Homo sapiens: one gene and its partners. The protein of the gene in region 3 interacts with the protein of the main gene of each other region in a biochemical or structural test. Each region holds a gene or a part of one and is shown on either strand. Other genes may lie near its edges.

Evidence for each region. Proteins that work in one complex are often made in the same cells at the same time.
Region 1: the proteins of SH3GL1 (region 3) and SYNJ1 interact in a test that uses a peptide from one of them, tested with the Homo sapiens proteins (one study listed by BioGRID and IntAct).
Region 2: the proteins of SH3GL1 (region 3) and DNM1 form a complex in vitro, tested with the Homo sapiens proteins (2 studies listed by BioGRID and IntAct, with this or other methods).

The regions. Positions count from the first base shown.
Region 1 is NC_000021.9:32,718,014-32,725,013, forward strand, and holds part of SYNJ1 (synaptojanin-1), read right to left. Parts: intron 1-7,000. UniProt on the Homo sapiens protein: Phosphatase that acts on various phosphoinositides, including phosphatidylinositol 4-phosphate, phosphatidylinositol (4,5)-bisphosphate and phosphatidylinositol (3,4,5)-trisphosphate. Has a role in clathrin-mediated endocytosis.
Region 2 is NC_000009.12:128,220,379-128,227,378, reverse strand, and holds part of DNM1 (dynamin-1), read right to left. Parts: intron 5,183-7,000; coding exon 5,040-5,182; intron 4,919-5,039; coding exon 4,783-4,918; intron 4,587-4,782; coding exon 4,519-4,586; intron 3,129-4,518; coding exon 2,990-3,128; intron 1,345-2,989; coding exon of another isoform or gene 1,206-1,344; intron 1-1,205. UniProt on the Homo sapiens protein: Catalyzes the hydrolysis of GTP and utilizes this energy to mediate vesicle scission and participates in many forms of endocytosis, such as clathrin-mediated endocytosis or synaptic vesicle endocytosis as well as rapid endocytosis (RE).
Region 3 is NC_000019.10:4,397,528-4,404,900, forward strand, and holds the start of SH3GL1 (endophilin-A2), read right to left. Parts: upstream 3,021-7,373; 5' UTR 2,842-3,020; coding exon 2,797-2,841; intron 1-2,796. Other genes in the region: CHAF1A (chromatin assembly factor 1 subunit A), read left to right, coding at 5,236-5,287. UniProt on the Homo sapiens protein: Implicated in endocytosis. May recruit other proteins to membranes with high curvature.

The DNA.
Region 1 (7,000 bases), on a different chromosome or scaffold from region 3:
AGGTCTGCAAATCATTCCATGTATTTTGTTCATTTTGTTGTTGTTACTTAAGGTAGGAGGGTAAATCTAGTTCCTGTTACTCCACTATGGTCAGAAGCTCCCGTTATAGTCCTGAGTTACGTATATTTTATAGGACAAGTTAGAACATCTGATAGACCTGAGATGATGTAATAAAAAGCCACAGAGTTTTTACTATTCAGTGAGAGTGGAAGTTCTGCCTTTCCTTTTTATTTCCTCATAGCAAAGTTAAGTGGTGAAGAAATGAAAGCACTTAAGAACTAACTACTGGTTTGACCCTAGGTCAATCCTACTACCAACCCAGAATAAAAAAGTTTGGTTGATTTTCTTTTTAAAGAGTTGACATTTAAGTTACTTTCTATTAAATACGTACATTCCTCAGACTACAGGGGCACATAAAAAAAGAAAGAAAATAAATATGCACCTTCCAAAGGTATTTATAAAAAGAAAATGAATTTTTGCAACCCTAACATAAAGTGATATATAACAAGTCTAAATTTCATGATTTCTCTGCTGAAAAAGTCAACTATAAAAAGTCACTTCTTCCCTCAACTTGCAAATTTTTCTTTAAAAGAGACAGGACACTGCAACTTATCTAAAGGGCAATCATGTTGACAGCGTTTGGCAATTAAAAAAAAAAAACAAACTACACACACTGTTTGGCATTACCACCTACTATATTTATCCAAAAGTCTAGAACCTGACATTTAACTTGGCCCAGGAAAGAAACTTTGTTTTTAATGACTTTACTGTAAATTAAACCATACTTTCTCCTCTAATATATTAATATGTTAATAGTTTGTAGGGAAAAACACAAGTGTACAGTTCCCTCATTAGAAAATGCTACCAATTACACTCTTAACCTTAACGCCTTCCCTTATTTTTACACTTCATTCCCCACCCCTGAAAATAATAGCCACACAATATATGGTAATACAATAGCCTCACAACAGCACAAACAATAATTACAGTAAAAAAAAATTAAATGGTAGGACTATGTCATTGGGGCAGTTATCTTTCCAATCCTCAGTTTCCAAATCTCTGAAATGTGGATAAAAGCACAATCTGAACTGAATGAAATAAAGTGTGTCAAATGCCACATCTCCTGAACTGTGTGCTCAGATGCCCCACGGCACTACAGCAAACTCCCAGGGAAGCTGCATATTTTAAACAGAAGGAAACACTGAGATTCTCAACACATGCTGGAAACCAGCCAAACTATTAACCTGAGGTGCTTGAGTTGTCATATTAGATTGCAGTGCATTCCTTGGATGATATATATTAGTGAAACCGGGTTTTTGCTGGTTGCTGTGATAAAAGCAAGTGTCACTTGAAAATCAATGTGGAACAGGAAATGAGGACGGCAGTGTACTCTGTTCCAAGGTTTGAAAAGCTATGCAGGCTGGGAGCAGTGGCTCACGCCCGTAATCCCAGCACTTTGGAAGGCCATGGTGGGCAGATCACCTGAGGTCAGGAGTTCGAGACCAGCCTGGCCAACATGGTGAAACCCCGTCTCTACTAAAAATACAAACATTAGCCAGGTGTGGTAGCGGGTGCCTGCAATCCCAGCTACTTGAGAGGCTGAGGCAGGAGAATTGCTTGAACCCGTAGGCAGAGGTTGCAGTGAGCCGAGACCGTGCCATTGCACTCCAACCTGGGTGACAAGAGTAAAACTCCATCTTAAAAAAAAAAAAAAAGAAAGAAAAAGAAAAGCTATTTAGTGCTCAGTGCTCAACAAGCACACACATCTCATTAGTAAATTGTGGTTACTTATGAAGAAAATAAATGTTCTATTTTTTCTGCATTTTTTTTTTTGAACAGCTACAAAAGCTGTTGGGACACAAATATTTTTTGGACCTAACTATTTAATAAACAGAACTATTAAGTATTGTTTGTGGCCTAGGGGTGTTGTGAAAAACTTAACGAGGCCAGGCACAGTGGCTCACACCTGTAATCCCAGGACTTTGGAAGGCCGAGGTGGGCAGATCACCTGAGGTCAGGAGCTCAAGACCAGCCTGACCAACATGGAGAAACCCCGTCTCTACTAAAAATACAAAATTAGCTGGGCGTGGTGCCACATGCCTGTAATCCCAGCTACTTGGGAGGCTGAGGCAGGAGAACTGCTTGAACCCGGGAGGCAGAGGTTGCAGTGAGCCGAGATCGCACCATTGCACTCCAGCTTGGGCAACAAGAGCGAAACTCTCCCTCTCAAAAACAAAAACAAAAACAAAAACAACTTAATGAGATAATAAGGTCACCATAAAACAATGAAGTTTAAAAACCTCTGGCTTAATGTTGTGACTGGCAGAATAAGCTTCCAGTAAGTGGTAGCCATTATCATTTCACTACGATTAGTCCTTTACGCAGTTTTATAGAAAAGAGAGGATATTTCATATTCTGTAATAAAGATCTCAGAATATCATCCTATAGTATTATGACTTATATTGAGTATTATATATAGTATTATGACTTATGTTGTAAGAAAAAATTAGGTAGACAAAGAATCTCATAAGGACAACTTGGAGGAAAACCAGGTGCAGTGATATGGCCTTGCTATTTATAAAATGCATGATTTGAGTCCTAATCTGACTCAAATTATGCTACTTGAAAAGCCTGAAAGTAATCTTACCACTAGACAGATAAAAGCAATTCATCCTTACTCCCATGCTAGCATGTAATATGGAAAAGAGCAAAAGCTTTAATTTTAAGAGTTAGGAATCCATGGCGCCACCTCACCTCCCCATCTTTTACGTAGAGGTCCATAACTTCTGTTTTTAGAGTTATCCTCCATTTCCCATATGTTGACCTTTTCTTTACTCCATCTTCTATTTAGGATATAATTATGAAATGAATCATTCACTTTATTGAAGCCTGAGATGGGCTGTAAAATATTGAGATTGTGAATTTAATGCATGTATGTCAGACTGACAGCTTGTCCTTCTCCTGTGACAGTCTTTGTGTATGTGTGTGTAAACTGGAGAAAGACTAAGAACAATGAATTGTACACAAAGCTGAGAGACATCTTTTATCTCTTAATAAATTGTTTCCAGGAAAAAAATATGTACCTGTTTATAACTTGCTAACCATCACACAAGCTGCTTAAACTGGTAGATGCAGCAAACTAGTCACAGAGCTCACCTGCTACACTGAACCACTATTCCAAAGACATCAAATTGCAATTTAATCAAACACTTGCTGTACAAATACTTTTCAAAACTGAGTAATGCTAAAAATGGGTACACTCCTAAAAAACATATTAACTGTTATCTAAGGGTAAGAACTTTTTAGAAAGTGTTTTAAATAAATCAATGCAACAGAAGAAATAATAATGAAATTATTTTCTATTTTAAACAGGTAATTTTGAAGGCCAGGCGTGGTGGCTCACGCCTATAATCTCAGCACTTTGGGAAGCTGAGGTGGGTGGATCACAAGGTCAGGAGTTTGAGACCAGCCTGGCCAACATGGTGAAACCCTGTCTCTACTAAAAATAAGGAAAAATTAGCTAGGTGTGGTGGGGGGCGCCTGTGGTCCCAGCTACTCAGGAGGCTGAGGCAGGAGAACTCCTTGAACCCAGGAGGCGGAGGCTGTAGTGAGTCAAGATTGCACCACTGCACTCCAACTTGGGTGACAGAGCAAGACTCCATCTTGGAAAAAAAAAAAAAGTAATTTTGAAACAAATTAATAGTACTTATAGAAATAATAAGTAACATTTATCATAGACATTTCAAATTGGCATTTCAGAAGAACCTTAATAATGTGGTTAACAGTTATTTCCAATAGGATTTGTCAATAACAAATCTAAATAATGTGTAATATACATCTTTTATATCAGCAGTTCAGTCAGATAACAATTCTCAAAAACATAGGAAATAGGCCAGGTGCAGTGACTTATGCCTGTAATCCCAGCACTTTGGGAGGCCAAGGCGGGCGGATCACCTGAGGTCGGGAGTTCAAGACCAGCCTGACCAACATGGAGAAACCCTGTCTCTACTAAAAATACAAAATTAGCTAGGTATGATGGCGCATGCCTGTAATCCCAGCTACTTGGGAGGCTGATGCGGGAAAATCACTTGAACTTGGGAAGGGGAGGTTGCAGTGAGCCGAGATCGTGCCATTGCACTCTAGCCTGGGCAACAAGAATGAAACTCCATCTCAAAGAAAAAAAAAAAAAAAAATATATATATATATATATATATATATAATGTATGCATGTATGTATATGAAATAAGTTTTATAGGGCTGGGCTTGGTGGCTCACGCCTATAATCCCAGCACTTTGGGAGGCCAAGGCAGGTGGATCACTTGAGTTCACGAGTTCAGATCAGCCTGGCCAACATGGTGAAGCCCCATCTCTACTAAAAATACAAAAATTAGCTGGGCATGTTGGTGTGCGCCTGTAGTCCCAGCTACTCAGGAAGCTGAGGCACGAGAATCACTTGAACCCAGGAGGCGGAGGTTGCAGTGCACGGAGATCATACCACTGCACTCCAGCCTCAGTGACAGAACAAGACTCTGCTCAAAAAACAACAACAAAAATTTACGGAAAAATATCTCTTATTTTCAAACATAATAACTGCATGTTTATCAACTTTGTAATCTAGGTTAGTCTTTCCCTTGCTGTCATTCATTTAATAATCACATTTTCTTCAAGTATGAGTAAAACACTACACTAAGCACTAAGACTGCAAATATTACTAAGACACACAGGCCTTTTCCTCAAGGAGTGCGGCATCCAGACACAGAACCTGAGCAGAATTCCATATGATATGAAGGCACTATACTCAAAGTGCTACAAGAGTATTAGCACTTGGTTCAGCCTGACAGTTTCAAGAAAACTACTTAGTAGCCCCATAAAAGACAACAGCACCAAAATTCTGGAAACATGGTTATTTTGGATAAAATCTGCAAGCCAAAAAAAAGCAATCCCCTAATCTATCATAGAAAGGCCTAAATACACTTTGCTCAGAAATGAGCATCACAATCTAATTATATCAGAATATCCAGGGGGCTAGAGCCCAGACAGTAGTATTTGTAAAAGCTGCCCAGGTGACTGTAACACTGATAATGTCATAACATCATGACTGATTTAAGCTTAGAATCCTATCGACATAAAGACAGAGTCTTGAGGCTGCATTAGTGAACACGTGGGTCCCTAAGGGGATCCATTGTATGAGACTATTTTCATTGTATTTTTACTTGCAATCTTTTGGTATGTGCTAATAGTATGAAAGACAAAATTTCATGTTGGGTATCTCATGGCACTTCAGCAAAGGCCAAGAAAATTAAGTGATTGCTAATCCTCAACACTGTATGCTGACTAAAATGTCTGTTTAAAATTTACTTTTTAAAGTAAAGCCAGGGCAAGTAGAGACTTGAAATTAGGAACTTTGTGTACATAAAGACCAAGTCCTGCTAAGGTCACTTCCACCACCCCTTTCCAAGAAAAACACCTACATATGAGCATTTAGACAACAACAAAACCAGCACATAAGAAGTATGCGTCTTGGCTGCGAGCAGTGGCTCACGCCTGTAATCCCAATACTTTGGGAGCCTGAGGCAGGTGGAAACCATGAACCCAGGAGTCTGAGATCAGCAGGGCAACATGAGGAAGCCCCCTATCTACAAAAAAATACGAAAAAAATTATCTGGGCATAGTCGTGTGCGCCTGTAGTCCCAGCTACTCAGGAGGCTGAGGCAGGAGGATCAATTGAGCCCGGGAGTTCCAGGGAGTTCAATTACAGTGAGCTGTGATCATGCCACTGCACTCCAGCCTGGGTGACAGAACAAGACCATGTCTCAAAAAATAAAAGCAAAAAAGAAGTATGCACCTTGTGATACAGAGTAAGTTCTAGAGAAATGAAGAGAAGGTAGAGATAAAGGTGAGCTGGAGTGGTTGGGGCAGAGTCTTATGAAGGAAGAAGACCTGAGTAGGACCTCGGTGGGACTGACAGGCTCAGATTAGAGAAGCAGCACTCTAGCTGTCTTGGAGGAAGAAGGTGTAAAAAGCAACAGTATGATGAAGCTGAAAAAAGCATGGTGCTTGGGAAGGCACTGAGGAAACACCAGATCTCCTTAAAGGAGATCAACACTGGACAAATGACAGGTTGAGGAGTACAAACTTAATCTTGGTGAAAAACAGGGTTACACTTTGCTTTAATATAAAAAATGATTTTAGGGCTGGGCGCGGTGGCTCACGCCTGTAATCCCAGCACTTTGGGAGGCTGAGGCAGGCGAATCACCTGAGGTCAGGAGTTCAAGACCAGCCTGGCCAACATGATGAAACCCTGTCTCTACTAAAAATACAAAAATTAGCAAGGCGTGGTGGCACACACCTATAATTCCAGCTACTTGGGAGGCCGAGGCAGGAGAACCACTTGAACCCAGGAGGTGGAGGTTGCAGTGAGCCGAGATCATGCCACTGCACTCCAGCCTGGGCAACAGAGTGAGACCCTGTCTCAAAAAACAAACAAGCAAACAAACAAAGAAAAAACATGATTTTAGAAGATTCTTCAGGTAGATGAATATGCAGAATGCACTGAAATTCAGGGAGCTGGGATTATTGAAGATGAAGAGAACACATTGATATTTTCCAAGCACAGCTTCTGAATACAATAGGCATTTTTAAAGTGTGAAGATTTTAAGTGAACACTGTACAGCACAATACAAACCTTGGTATCACTCCAAAATGAAGGCCAAATTAATTTTAAAAGTCAAATGACTTAAGAAGGTTTGTTAGCTCTTAAATATTAATATGTTAAGTATTACTGTAAAGCTTATAGTAGGAAAGATAATGACATTCCAAGAGATTAGACATCCATTTATGTTAGCTTTACAGAAAGAGTCAATATTCCAACATTTTTTTTCTGAATTGCTCACATAGTCTAAATCTAATGAAAATAGAATAGCTTAGACAATATTTTAATATTCTTTCTCCTTAGAATGCACATTAATGCCAAAATAAATGTTTTAGGGCCTTTTGGTAA
Region 2 (7,000 bases), on a different chromosome or scaffold from region 3:
AAAGGCATGAGACCAATCTTTATGTAGCAACATACAAGGATTACACAACACACTGCTCAGTAAAAAAGAATGCGCGGTGGCTCATGTTTGTAATCCTAGCACTTTGGGAGGCCGAGGCAGGTGGATCACCTCCGGTCAGGGGTTCAAGACCAGCCTGGCCAACGTGGCAAAACCCCATCTCTACTAAAAATACAAAAATTAGCCAGGTGTGGTGGTACATGCTAGTAATCCCAGCCACCCGGGAGGCTGAGGCAGGAGAATACTTGAACCCAGGAGGCAGAGGTTGCAGTGAGCCAAGATGGTGCCACTGCACTCCAGCCTGGGCGACAGAGCAAGATTCCATCTCAAAAAAAAAAAAAAAAAAAAAAAGGAATGGAGATGATTGATGCTTATTTGAAACTCAATGCTAAGGTGGATGTGCCTCCACCCACCAGCATAGGGAAGTCCTTCAGATATAGGTGAGGCTGGGCTCACCCCTGGCACCTCTGATTTAGCCTGCTGGAGAAGCTCCTGCAGGCAACTGATTCTCTCGCACTCCCCTGGGAAGAACTGCTTTAGACAACCTGGCTAAAAATCCTCAAAATGCCCAAAAGCAGACAAATAGGAAAAAGGCATCTAAAAAGTCACAGACAACTCAAAAGAGACCGCCCCTGTCTCTCACGCACGGATTACTGTAAAGTGAGTAATCCAATATGCTTTCAGGCAAATTGGTTTTGAGGAACTAGGACAGCTCCCCCTGCCCAGGAGGCCCTGACCTCAGACCCCTTCCTCTGTCCTTCCTAAAACTGAATCACACTCTGCTTCTCTTTTCTGAGACTCTGTTTTGCCATCTGCAAAATGGGAATAACAACACTACCCACGTCTTAGGGTGGTTGAGAGGACTGAGTCAGATAGTAAGGGCAAGCACTTAGCGTGTGCTTGGCACATAGTAGGTGCTCAGTAAACAGCTGCCATCTCCTTAACATCATCTTCATCACTAGCATAGGTGCCACCAAGGAGGCTTGGGTTGGAGTCAAGTCTTCTGGGATGGGGGCCTGGAGGGGTCATGAGTGCAAGTACCCAGGGTTAGAAACTGGCAGGAAACACTAGGGCTGGGTCCCTGCGGGTAGCCGTGAGGCCGGCTCAGCAGATCCTTCTGCCCACGGGAGGCTGTGGCCACAAGGAATGGACGGCCAGGCCCAGCCCCGCCCAGGCGGCCGTCATACCTTTTCGCTACACTTTCTGATGGTGGCTGTGAGCTCACTGACTACCATATCCACACACTTGATACTGGGCTCTTTGAGCTTCTGCACCTGCTTTTTCACTGTGGCTTCAAAAGCGAGGTCAGGTGTGAAGAGGCCCGTCCTGCACCCGGGGAGGAGGTGGGGACAGGAGGAGGAGCAGCCGTGGGTGGGGAGGAGAAGTGGGTGAAAGCCAAGCAGAGACAGGAATCCAGGGGTGGAGAGGATGGCACGGGCACGGGGGAAGAGAGAGAGACATCGACACAGATAAAGAGAGAGAGAGAACAGAAGACAATGTGAGCGTGGGACCGGCCCTCCCTTGCCACCCGGGGTTGGCACCTCCCAGGTGCTGCCAAGCATCCCCTGGGCTCCATAGGTATGGCCAGAGGTACGAGGGACCAAGCCCCTGCTCCGTACAAGACCCCTATTGAGTTCAGATCCTCTTCCCAGGGATGCTCCCCTGCTCCTCGGCCTCACTGAGGCTGCCTGCTCTCTCCCAGTGCCGTCTTTGTCCACAGCCTTGGGTTCTCCTAAGGAGCTGACCCAGGCCAGGACAAGGCCAGGACCTCATCCACCCATCCTGTTCAATTCTACGTTTCCCAGTGTCCCAGAATTTGCTTCATCCTGACTCCAAACCTCAGTACCATTCCCTATCTCTAGGGTTGCCGCATCCAGCTGCCCAGGCCATGCACTGCACAACTCCAGGGGGGTCCATTCCCGTAAACCGTGGCGCAGAGGCTGCCTCCTAGGGTTGCAGTATAGCAGCCTGACCTCCCTCTCCAGCTCCCTGCTCTAGTCCCGCCCCTCCCTTTCTCTTCAAGGGGCATTCCTGGCCTCTCCTCCACAGGGGTTTGGTGGAACCAAAAGACAGAAAGAGAAGAGGAAAGACAGAAAGAGTAGAGGTAGTGATAGAGAGGGGCCGGGACAGCAGTGGGGAGAGGAAAGGAAGGGAGGCTGGAGGGTGGAATCGAGGAGCACTGGACTTGGAGTCCAGAGCCGTGGCTTCAAGTAACAGCTCTGCCACCTCCTGACTACTGTGACTTGGGCAAGCCACTTGATCTCCTGGAGCTTCAGTGTTCGTGCTGTGAAATGGGCACCGTCCTCCCTGTCCTGCCTCCCTGCGTGCTTCTGTGAGGCTTGGATGGTGGGGCAGATGGGAGAAGGGCTCTATCCCTGGAAAGCCAGATGTGGATGGAAGGGAGGGAGAGGCCCTGAGTGAGGGTCTTACGTGAGCATCCTGTGTGAGGGTCCTGAGTGAGGGTGAGATGAGTATGGGGAGGATGAAGGACAGCGGGGAGCCAGGGCACCTGCTAGTCCTGGGTCCTCTGCACCCCCTCTGGCCACCCAGGCCCACCGAGCAGTGCCCGAGAAGGCCCTGCATTTCACCTGTCTCCAAGGCTAAGGTTTCCCCAGACCCCTCCCTGGAGCTCCCAAAGATGACACCTCCGAGGACAGGGAGGGGGCTCAGGGTCCCCTCAAGCCCTATTCTCTGAGCTGGGGGAGCTCTTGGTGGGCTCTTGGGGTAAACAGCCAGCCATCATCCCCGTCTCACCCATGTCCAATCCCTGGGTCCCCAGACCTGGGGGCCAGGGGTGGGTGAGGCCCTCTCAGAGGCACATTGTCTCCTATTCAGTGGTGGCCTGCCTCCCCACCCCGCTGAGGTCTGTACATGCTACCGAGGAGGCAGGGGGGGACATGGGGAAGGAGCGCCTGGCAGCAGTGCAGGGCGGGGCAGAGGCGGTGGGGGCTGGCCCGGGCCTCCGGGTTACCTTCTTGGTGCACTGTCTAACGGTGCTGATTAGCTCCGAGATAACCATGTCCACACACTTGAGACACGGTTCTCGGATCTTCTTCACCTGCTTTTTCACAATGGTCTCAAAGGCCATGTCTGGGGTAAACAGCCCCGTTCTGAACGCCCGGAGCGGGAGAAGGGCAGAGTGTCACAGGCCAGTGCCGGCCAGGAGGGCCAGGCCGAGGCTCCTCCCCAAGCCCACGAACTCTGCCTGAGGGGCCCTTCCACTACCCCTCTCTGGGCCTCAGTGTCCCCAGTTGTAAAATGGGAGGGAGGGGTTCTAATGAAGGGTTTTTTGTTGTTGTTGTTATTTTTTTTGAGACGGAGTCTTGCTCTGTCGCCCAGGCTGGAGTGCAGTGGCGCAATCTTGGCTCACTGCAACCTCCGCCTCCCGGGTTCACGCCATTCTCCTGCCTCAGCCTCCCAAGTAGCTGGGACTACAGGCGCCTGCCACCACGCCCGGCTAATTTTTTCGTATTTTTAGTAGAGACAGGGTTTCACCGTGTTAGCCAGGATGGTCTCGATCTCCTGACCTCATGATCCGCCTGCCTCGGCCTTCCAAAGTGCTGGGATTACAGGCGTGAGCCACCGCGCCCGGCCCTAATGAGGCTCTTTGGGGCAAGACAAGGTGGTTGAGTATCTGATATGTAAGTCCTGCTTCCTCGTAAGGGTCTGTGCATATAGGAAGTTCTATGGCCAGAAATGGCTTGAAAATTGCCAAACGTGGTTCTCCATAAGAGCCTTTCCAGGAATAGAGTGTTTTGTTTTAAGACTAGGAAAGAGATCTTTTTTCTGTGAATTGGCCAGTGCAGTTATCAGGAAGTAAATTCCATGCCAAATCTTGGAAATGAACCTGCATGAGAGCAAGGGGACACTGGGTCTTGTTCACTGCTTGGCATAGGGTAGGTGCTTTAAATTTTCCGGCCCAGTGGATTTGTTGGATGAACACAGCATAGATCTGGGTCCCTGAAGGGGATCTAAGCTTTTAAGGAACAGATTCCACCTCCCAATCCTGTTTCCTACTCCACGGGTTGCCTAGAAGGAGGGCGGTGGGGTGGAATGGGACTGACTCTGGGCTACTGTGAATACAGGAGGGTGTGGAGGATTGCAAAGTCCCCGGCCGTCATAAAAGGACACAGCCTCATACTTAGATGCTCCACCCCAGGCCCTCGTAGTGGTTTGGACATCTTTGTCCGGTTACCTGGGTGGCACTGGGGGAGCTATCTCACCCTGGGGATGGGCCCAGCCCCAGAGGGTGTTTCCCCGGCCACCTGCGCCCTGGGCTGTGCCCAGTTGGCCCAGCAAGTTGCAGTAGGCGGGGTGGCCCGGGTCCACCTCCCCAAGCTGGAGCCTGTCATGCAGGGAGCCAGAAAGTTGGGGTCGAGAGGACTGGGGAACAGAGCTTTCAGTCCTTCCTGAGGGAGGCCCACTTCATCACTCCCTGTGCCTCTGTCCCAGACCCCCTACTTCTGGGGTTCAGCCACCCTCCCAGGCCCCAATACGTGCCTAATGCCATGGATATTCTTGATAGCATAGCTGATCTCCCTTCGGAGTTCCTTCTCATCAAACTCCATCTGTGTAGAAAAGCAGAGAAAAGCCTGGTCAGGGCCTGTCCTACTACCTGGGAGGTCAAGACAGGGCCCACCCCACACCTAGGGCTGGGCATCAGGGCCTGTGGGGTGGGGGCCAGCAAAAACACACGCAGAGAGAGTCCTGAGTGAGGGTGGGGGGAGTCCTGAGCCATCCTGTCCCCAGGGCTGCCTGACCTACCTTGACCAGCTCGAAAGGGAAGCGCTCGTGGAAGATTCGGTTAATGCGGGCTCCCCCTGACAGTTCGTAGGTGTCGATCTGATCTCCTGAGCCCTCAATGCGCTTCTCAAAGTCTACGGCGAACTGCTGGACCATCCTGGTGGGAGAGTGGTGTGGCCTGAGGGGGCAGGAGCAGCCCAGCAAAGGGAACCCTGGGAGAGCCCCACGCTGAGAGGCTGGGGGCGGGGATTCAGTGATAGGAGCTGGGGGAGCCTCACTGCAGCAGGGCCTTGGTCTTGCGAGCTGGGTCATCAGGGCGGAAGTTCTTGTATTCCTCCACCTCCTTCTCAATGGACAGTAGCTGGCTCTGCAGCTTGTTCCGCAGCCCCGGCAGTGTGTCCCGGATGTGGTTCGTCAGTTGCTGGGGGTAAGGGTGAGGAAAGGGTTGAGGACAGATGGTCACAGGGCCAGGAAGGGACTTGGATGCCAGGGGACTGTGTGAACGTGGTGAGGTGGAGAGCTATGGAGGGCAGCCCTGCCACTGCTGCCCGGGCCACTAGCAAGAAAACTGGTTCATAGAAGGAGCTTGCAGAGATGTATTAGTTGAATTAATGAGTGCATAATTTTCAATAAAGCCAGAAATCTGGATTTGTATTTGGAATTTCCTGATTTTTGGCCAATTTAATCTTTTTATTTTTATTTATTATTATTATTTTTTTGAGACGGAGTTTCACTCGTCACCCAGGCTGGAGTGCAATGGCGTGATCTCAGCTCACTGCAACCTGCGATCTCTGCCTCCCAGTTTCAAGCAATTCTCCTGCCTCAGCCTCCCAAGTAACTGGGACTACAGGCGTGCACCACCATGCCCAGCTAATTTTTTGTATTTTTAGTACAGGTTTTCGCCTTGTTGGCCAGGCTGGTGTCGAACTTTTGGCCTCAAGTGATCCACCCGCCTCAGCCTCCCAAAGTGGTGGGATTACAGGCATGAACCACCATACCATCCCAATTTAATATTTTTAGACGTGCGTCTGAGGCAGGGGTGGCCAGAGGGCTGCCCCTTGGACCCTCTGGGTTTAAAGCCTCCTTTAAGGTCATTCTCAAGTTCTAGCACTCATGCTCACTAGGTGCCCCCACACAGTATCTCCCTGAACCTTTACAACAATCCTATGAAACAGGTCTGATCACCATTGTCTCCATTTTACAGATGCAGAAATAGAGGCTCAGAGGCCAGGCACGATTATGGCTCATGCCTGTTATCCCAGCACTTTGGGAGGCCAAGGCGGGCAGATCACCTGATGTCAGGAGTACGAGACCAGCCTGGCTAACATGGTGAAACCCCGTCTCTACTAAAAATACAAAAATTAGCCAGGCGTGGTGGTGTGTGCCTGTAATCCCAGCTACCTGGGAGGCTGAGGTAGGAGAATCCCTTGAATCCAGGAGGCAGAGGTTGCAGTGAGCTGAGATCGCACCATTGCACTCCAGCCTGGGTGACAAGAGCAAAACTCCATCTAAGAGAGAAAGAAAGAAAGAGAGAAAGAGAGAAAGAGAGAAAGAAAGAGAGAAAGAGAGAAAGAAAGAGAGAAAGAAAGAAAGAGAAAGAAAGGAAGGAAGGAAGGAAGGAAGGGAAAGAAAGAAAGAAAGAGAAAGAAAGAAAGAAGAAAGGAAAGAAAGAAAGAAAAGAAAAGAAAGAAAGAAAGAAAGAAAGAAAGAAAGAAAGAAAGAAAGAAAGAAAACAAATAAAGAAAAAAGAAATAGAGGCTCAGAGAGCCAGAGAGAGTGTCTCAGAGGGGGAGTGACAAAACTGGGATTGGAAACCAGGTCTTGCCTACACAGACAGACAGTCAGACAGACACACACACACACACACACACACACGCGCGCGCGCGCGCACTTCAGTTCTGGATGCCCCATTCCAGATGGAGAAAAGTCCTGGGGAAGCCCCTGGGATTCCCTGTCAAGGTCTTCAGCCGAGTATACTTGAATCCTGGCCCCCAAACCCAAGCTCTTCCCCATGACACCCTCCACATAGGTCTTGGCCTTCTCTGTGTTGGGGACTTCCAGGGCTTCCCTGGCAGGTCCCAGACAGGGAAAGGTCAGTGAAGCTTTGCTGCTACCTAGCTGTGGGGCTGTGGGCAAGTTGCTTTGCTTTTCTGAGGCTCAGTTTGTCTATCTGCACTACGGAGAGGCTAACCTCTGCTGTTCACTCTCAGAACACACTTAATTTATCCTGTTTTCATGC
Region 3 (7,373 bases):
CTTCCAGAGACCTGTCTATAGCAGGGAACAAAGTGGCCCAGGAATTCCTCCAAGACCTCTGAGGACATCTTTCCTGCTAGGGAGCAGTACTCTATGGTGCTCTAACCAAGCAGGTGAAGGTCTGACGCCTGCTGGGCAAGGTCTAACCCAGGGCCAGGCCATCTGATTTCAAAGTGCTGGGGCAAGGGGGTGGGACTGTTCTCAGTGACAACTCTAAAATTCGTCTGGATTAAATCTTTCTCCAGGGTTTAACCATCATCTGGGGTGTAGAGATAGACCCTAAGTATCTATATCCCTAAACAACCACTAGGGTTGTTACTTTTTTTATTTATTTTTTGAGACAGGGTCTCACTTTGCTGCCCAGGCTGAAGTGCAGTGGCACGATCATAGTTCACTGCAGCCTTGAACTGCTGGGCTCAAGTGGTCCTCCTGCCTCAGCCTCCCAAGTAGCTGGGACTGCAGGTGCACATCACCACACCTGGCTAACTTTTTCATATTTTGTAGAGATGGGATCTCCCTATATCGCCCAGGCTGGTCTTGAACTCCTGAACTCAAGGGAACCCCTGCCTCAGCCTTCAAAGTGCTGGGATTACAGGCATGAGCCACAGCACCTGGCAGGGTCCTTACTTTTTTCTTTCCAGGGGCAAAGGTACCTGCTGGGTGTTACTGGGGACTCGTTTCTCTTTGCTCCCACTGGGCATCTCCGAACTGTGGGCAGAGAACCCTGTTTGCCACCTTGGCCCAAGCATTTGCTAAGATCATTGCTCATTCCTCGGTGGACTCTATCTACACAAATTCCACACAACCTCACCCTGCAGTACACGGACCAATAGGATTCAACAATCTGAGGCTTCTTGTCTTTTTTTTTTTTTCAAGACGGAGTCTCGCTCTGTCACCCAGGCTGGAGTGCAGTGGTGCAATCTCGGCTCACTGCAACCTCTGCCTGCCGGATTCAAGAGATTCTCCTGTCTCACCCTCCTTAGTAGCTGGGGTTACAGGCAAAAATACAAAATTTTTGTATTGTTAGTAGAGATGGGGTTTTGCCATGTTGCCCAGGCTGCTCTCAAACTCCTGGCTTCAAGTGATCCGCCCGCCTCGGCCTCCCAAACTGCTGGGATTCCAGGCATGAGCCACCGCGCCCGGCCAAATTTGAGGCTTCTTGCATTCGAAATTGCAAAGTGAAAATTTTAAATGTGCCCAGTTTTCTGGAGAGTGGATCCACAGCTTTCACCAGATTCATGAGCAGTGGGCCCTGGAGTTTCCAAAAAAAACCCTTTATCTGTCCATATCAAATGCACTTAGGCTGGGATGCAGCATTCTACTTCTGGGAATTCATCCTATAAAACTAATCCCACTGGTGAGCAAAGATATTCACTGGCTATTTATTGTAGTAATGGTAACAGAAAATTCCGGTAAACAATAGAGATATCTATCAACTGACAACTGGTTAAATAAATTATGGTATATGTCATGGAATGAAATACAATGTACCCATTAAAAAGAGCCAAGTAGGCCAGGCAGGTGGCTTACGTCGATAATCCCAGCATGTTGGGAAGCCGAAGCAGGCGGATTACTTGAGGCCAGGAGTTCGAGACCACCCTGGGGCACATGGAGAAACCCTGTCTCTGCTAAAATTACAAAAAGTAGCCGGGCGTGGTGGCGCATGCCTGTAGTCCCAGCTACTGGGGAGGCTGAGGCAGGAGAATTGCTTGAACACAGGAGGCGGAGCTTGCAGTGAGCCGAGATTGCACCACTGCCCTCCAGCTGGGGCGACAGAGCATGACTCCCTCTCAAAAAAAAAAAAAAAAAAAAAAATCCAAGAAGTGTGGAGTATGGTCTAGAGCAGTAGTCCTGGGGGACAGGAAAGGAAGGGAGGAAGGAAAGAAGAGAAGGGAGGGAGGGAGAGAGGCAAGGAGGGAGGGAGGAAGGAAGGAAAGAAGGAAGGAAGGAACGAAGGGAGGGAAGGAGGACTGATTCTAAGGGGACACACGGTGATGTCTCAAGATATTTTTGGTTGTCACGACTTGGGGGTGCTCCTGGCCCGGAGTGGGTGGAGGCCAGGGGCGCTGCTCAGCACCCCGCAGTGCCCAGGACGGCCCCACCACGGAGAACAATCCAGCCCCAGATGTCAACAGTGCCGACGGAGGGGGAGAAATCCCGCTCCAGTGTGATCTCCAAGCAATGAAAAACACAGCACACAGGATTCTGTGGCATATGCTATCACAGGGTACGTGTTTTTAAAGGAAAGGCACACACGTATCTTAGGAAAGGGACATACGGAGTCGATGACAGTCGCTTGTCTCTGGGGAGAAGGGCTGGCTGCCCGAGGAGCAGAGAGGGGAAACTGACTTCTTCCTCTACCTTTTCAACTTTGTACCTTGCCCATCCAGAGGATTTTGAACGTAACTGCTCTAGACGCAACTTTTCCCTGGCTCTGGGTTATCTGGCAAGAGTCCTGTGTCGACAGCCTCGGGACTCCTCTCTTCCCCTTCTCTCCCCGCACCCCGCCTTTGCAGCGGAGAGAAGGAGGGGAGAGGTCCGCGTCCCTGGGCAGCCCAGGGTGCCTCTCCCCTCCTCCCAGGGGCTCTGTCCCCGCTTCTGGAGCCCGCATGGCGGGCAGGGCCTGGGCCACCTCGTCGCCCCCGTCCGTCCCTTGGTCTTCCCACCTGGCAGGGGACACGCGCCAACGTCCCCACCTCGGTCCCCCCGGCCCCCTCCCGGGCCAGGTCGGGCCTGGCTCCCTCATCCGGGCAGCCCGGGGCCCGGTACTCGGCTCCCGCCTGGGCCTGCGCTCACCTGGCTCGCCTTGTAGAACTGCTTCTTCAGCCCCGCCACCGACATGCTGCCGCCCGCCGCCGAGCCTCCCGCCCGGACCGCGCCAGCGACAGGCTCCCGGGCGCCGCCGACCCTCTGCGCGCCTCAGCAGTCCCCGTCGGCGCCGCCTCCGCCACCCGCTTGCCAGCTCCGCGCCCGCCCCGGCGCCGCCTCAGCCGCTCGCGCGCCCGCGCGGCCAGGATATTACATGGCAACCGCACGCTTCCGGTGCCGGCCCCCGCGCGCGCCCCCGGCCCCCGCGCGCGCCCCCGGCCCCGTCTGCGCACGCGCGCCCTCTGCCGGCTGAAGAGCGCACGTGCACATTGTCTACCGCGGGAGAGGCCGCCTCTGTCAGTGAGTTGAGCGGGGCGAGCCTAGAGGGGCCGTAGCAGTTGCAGCGCCCCCTGGAGTCGTGGAGGTGACCCTAACGTCTTGGAAAACGCGCTTAGTTTAAACCTGGCCAGGGAGGTTGGGAAGTAGAAGGGGCCCCTGCTTACGATTCTTCAGATTCCTGTTTACTCATCTTAGCTAAATCCAGTTCGTCTAAGTGTTCAGCCCCCTCCCATTTTTATTTATTTATTTATTTTTTTTTTGAGACGGAGTCTTGCTTTGTCTCCCAGGCTGGAGTGCAGTGGCGTGATCTCGGCTCACTGCAACCTCCGCCTCCCGGGTTCAAGCGATTCTCCTGCCTCAGCCTCCCAAGTAGCTGAGATTACAGGCGCGCACCACCATGCTAGGCTAATTTTTGTATTTTTAGTAGAGACAGTGTTTCGCCATGTTGGCCAGGCTGGTCTCGAACTCCTGACCTCAGGTGATCCAACCCCCAACCCCCCCACCAAATCCAGCCTCCCAAAGTACTGGTCTCACAGGTATGAGCCACCGTGCCCGGCCACCTCTCTTCCTCTCTCTCTCTGTCCTGTGTTCATCCATTCAGTTGCCCACGTGACACATCTAGACATCTAGGTCTGTCTTCATGCCTTGACCATACTTTCCACCAGTCCTCCCCTCCAATTCTTCCTTGTCATGGCAGCCAGAAAGATGCTTCTAGAATGCAATTCAGGGCCAGGGGCGGTGGCTCACGCCTGTAATCCCAGCACTTTGGGAGGCCTAGGTGGGCGGATCACGAGGTCAGGAGATTGAGACCATCCTGGCTAACACGGTGAAACCCTGTCTCTACTAAAAAATAGAAAAAATTAGCCGGACGTGGTGGCGGGCGCCTGTGGTCCCAGCTACTAGGGACTCCGTCTCAAGAAAAAAGAAAGAAAGAAAGGAAGGAAGGAAGGAAGGAAGGAAGGAAGGAAGGAAGAAAGAAAGAAAGAAAACCTGTTTCTACACTCACAGGCTGACACTGAAGTTCTCTGTTTTGTGTGAGGCTTTTAATCTGCTTGATCTACACAGTTCAATCAAATATTTATACATTCACTCAAACATTTATTGACCTGGTAAATATGATCAGTTACTAACAGGTCCTGGGGTTCCAGTGAGGAATGAGTCCTACCCTCGCCAGAACTAATGACAAAAGGCAGAAATTAATTCATTAGTCAAATAACAAACTAATAAATAGACACAGCTGTAATTGCTTTAAGGAAAAGAACAGTGTTGTAGGCACTTGATATTGTCAGGGTTGGGGAAGAAAAGGCTTCCTGGGGTGACGATCTAAGATCTGAAAAGTATAAATTAGCCAGGAAAAGAGCTGCGAAAAGATTGTTCTAGGCAGAGAAAACAGCATGTGCCAATTTCCTGAGGATTAAACCAGAAACGATCCATTTCGTCCATTTCGTTCACTCATTCTACATGTTATTTACTGAATGTCAAATACTTCCGAAGCGCTCCCCAGACTTCGTTTTATTGTTCTTGTAGAAAGCAATTTATAATTTTAATTGCTGTTGCTATATTTAGCCGATGTCCCATTAGGATAAACTCAAAACTCCAGGTTCCTCATCTAAATCCCACTTTCAAGTTGTCATCTGCGCCTTGCGTAAAATGTTCTGGTGACGTAAGAGCCTGGGCCTCCCTCCTCTTAGGGACTATCCCACGCGATCAGCCAGTCGCAGCGCAGAGCAATGAGCTTGACACCTCCTTCCTCCAATCGCAGGGCAGCTCCTCCCAGCCAATGACAGGCCTCCGAGGGGAAGCCCAGTCCCTCGCGGATATGTCAATGGGCGAGCCCTGGGAGGAATGGAAGTCACGGATCTCGCGAGGATGCCCCCGGCGCCCCTCAATTCCCGAGGCGGGCCGTCACGTGACCCGGGCTCGCCCAATTGGCGCGCGGACTGCGGGGGTCGCCGCGGTTCCCGCCAAATACGAGCGCGGCGGCCGCGGCGGCAGCAGCGGCGCGGGCGGGAGGGCGAAGAGCAGCGGCCGCCTGAGGGGAGCCCGCGCCTCCGCCGCCTGAGAGGAGGTCGAGCTGCCGCCGGGGCGATGCTGGAGGAGCTGGAGTGCGGGGCGCCCGGCGCCAGGGGAGCCGCCACAGGTCGGTTCGGGCCCGCGCCGAGGGGAAGGGGGGGCGCGGCGCGCGGCCTGGACGGGCCGAGGCGGCGATGGGAGGCGGACGGGCCTCCGGGCGCCAAGCCTGGTCCTGCGGGCCGGGCGTTCACCCCCTGGGGCCTTCTCATCCCCAGCGAGGGCCTGGCGTCCCCAAGGGCACCCTTGTTGACGTTATTGTTGTAGCCGCGACCATATTGTTTGTTTCCGGCGCTTTTGCGTCAGTTCGTCCCTCCAGGACTCTCTGGGGCGGTGGGTCGGAGGGGCCGAGAGGGGAAACTGAGGCCCAGGGAAGCGAAAGGGCTTGCCCTGCAGGTTACTGGATGCGTTTGTGTCCCTTGACCATGTTGGACCTTGCAGCGGGTGGGGAAACTGAGGCCCAAGGTCGCACGGGCTCGGGGACCAGTACCGATGCCGCTGAGGGTCGGGGTAAGCCCGGGTAAGAAGAGGCCCAGATGGTAGAGATGGCCAGGAGGGTGGGACTCCCGAGTTCTTGCTCCTTCCTGATATGCACCGTGACTTCCTCCTCCGTGTGCCTTGGAATGGGGTCTTTGGAGCCCACCACAGGCCTCCTGAAACGTGGGAGGGTGAACCAAGGAAGACCAGACTGTCCCTCTCCCTTGCTGGACTCTGCATTACATAACGCTTTGGCAGCACTTGGCATTACGCTTTGGCACATAGTAGGTGCTCAGTAAATAACGTGAACGAATGAAGGGCTAGAATGGACGCCAGTCCAGTTTCTCAGCCTCAGCAGTGTTGATATTTGTTGCCGTCCTGGGCACGGCACTGCAGGGTGTTAAGCATCATCCCTGGCCTCCGCCTTTTGCAGGCCAGTAGCAGCCCCTCTCACCATGCCTTAGTAACAGCCAGAAATACCATTGCCCTGTGTCCCCTATGGGGCAGATTCCGCCTTGGCTGAAAATCATGGCTGTAGTTCCTTCTAGCCTGTGGGATTTCCCGGAGACATAAAATTAATATAAAGTTGGTACTGTCGTGGAGCTGTGATGTTTTAAGTCAGGATGTTTAACTTTATTTATTTATTTATTTTGAGACTGAGTCTTGCTCTGTTGCCCAACCTCTGCCTCTCTGGTTCAAGCGATTCTTCTGCCTCAGCCTCCCAAGTAGCTGGGATTACAGGCCTGCACCACCATGCCTGGCTAATTTTTGTATTTTTTAGTAGAGACGGGGTTTCACCATGTTGGGCAGGCTGGTCTCGAACTTCTGACCTCAGGTAATCCACCTGCATTGGCCTCCCAAAATGCTGGGATTACAGGCATGAGCCACCATGCCTGGCCAGGATATTTAACTTTAAAAAAAAAAATCGCTACTCGCTAGGACCATGCTATCATGAAAGGAAAGTATATTTTAGTGCCAAATAAAATTAGAAAGGATGTAATCGCAGAATAAAGAGCAGTTAGTAACTTTATACACACATATGTGTTAATCGTGTGTATCTTTGGATCTCTGGATTGGGAGTGTCCCGTTTTATATACAAGATTTTTTAATGAGGGTGGGTCCTGTTTTTAATGAGGTTGTTTCTGTTCCACTTGCACCAAAGCTAGTGACTCAAAGCCACACAAATAGATTTTTGTGATTGTCTCGAAAATAAAGTTAAGTGACTAAAAATCATATCCTTCAGTTAGGGGGTAGAAATCCATGGCTTTTGGTAAGTGGACACTTGAGAATGATACTGTCTTTATTTCTTTGAAGTGGCTAGAAAGGAAACATGAATTTTCTCAGTACCTTTTCTTATTCACTAAGCTTGGGGCGGTGGGTGAGGGGTGGTTTCATGTATGGACGATGGAGTTTTTTAGGAAGCCCCAGTCTGCTTTTAAAAAGTACTCACTTTTATGTAATGCTTACAAAACATACGTAGATTAACCAAAATAACTAAACTAGGTTTTGCCAAGCCAGATCTCCTGGTAAGTGTGAGCTTCCTAAACTTACTCTGTTTAAGGTATTTATCTAAAGACTCGCTTCTATTTATGATCACTGCTGCATCTGCTTTGATATTATTAGATGGTTTCTTGAGATTTTTTTTGCAGGAAAATATTTTGTCTTATCTTCTCTTGACA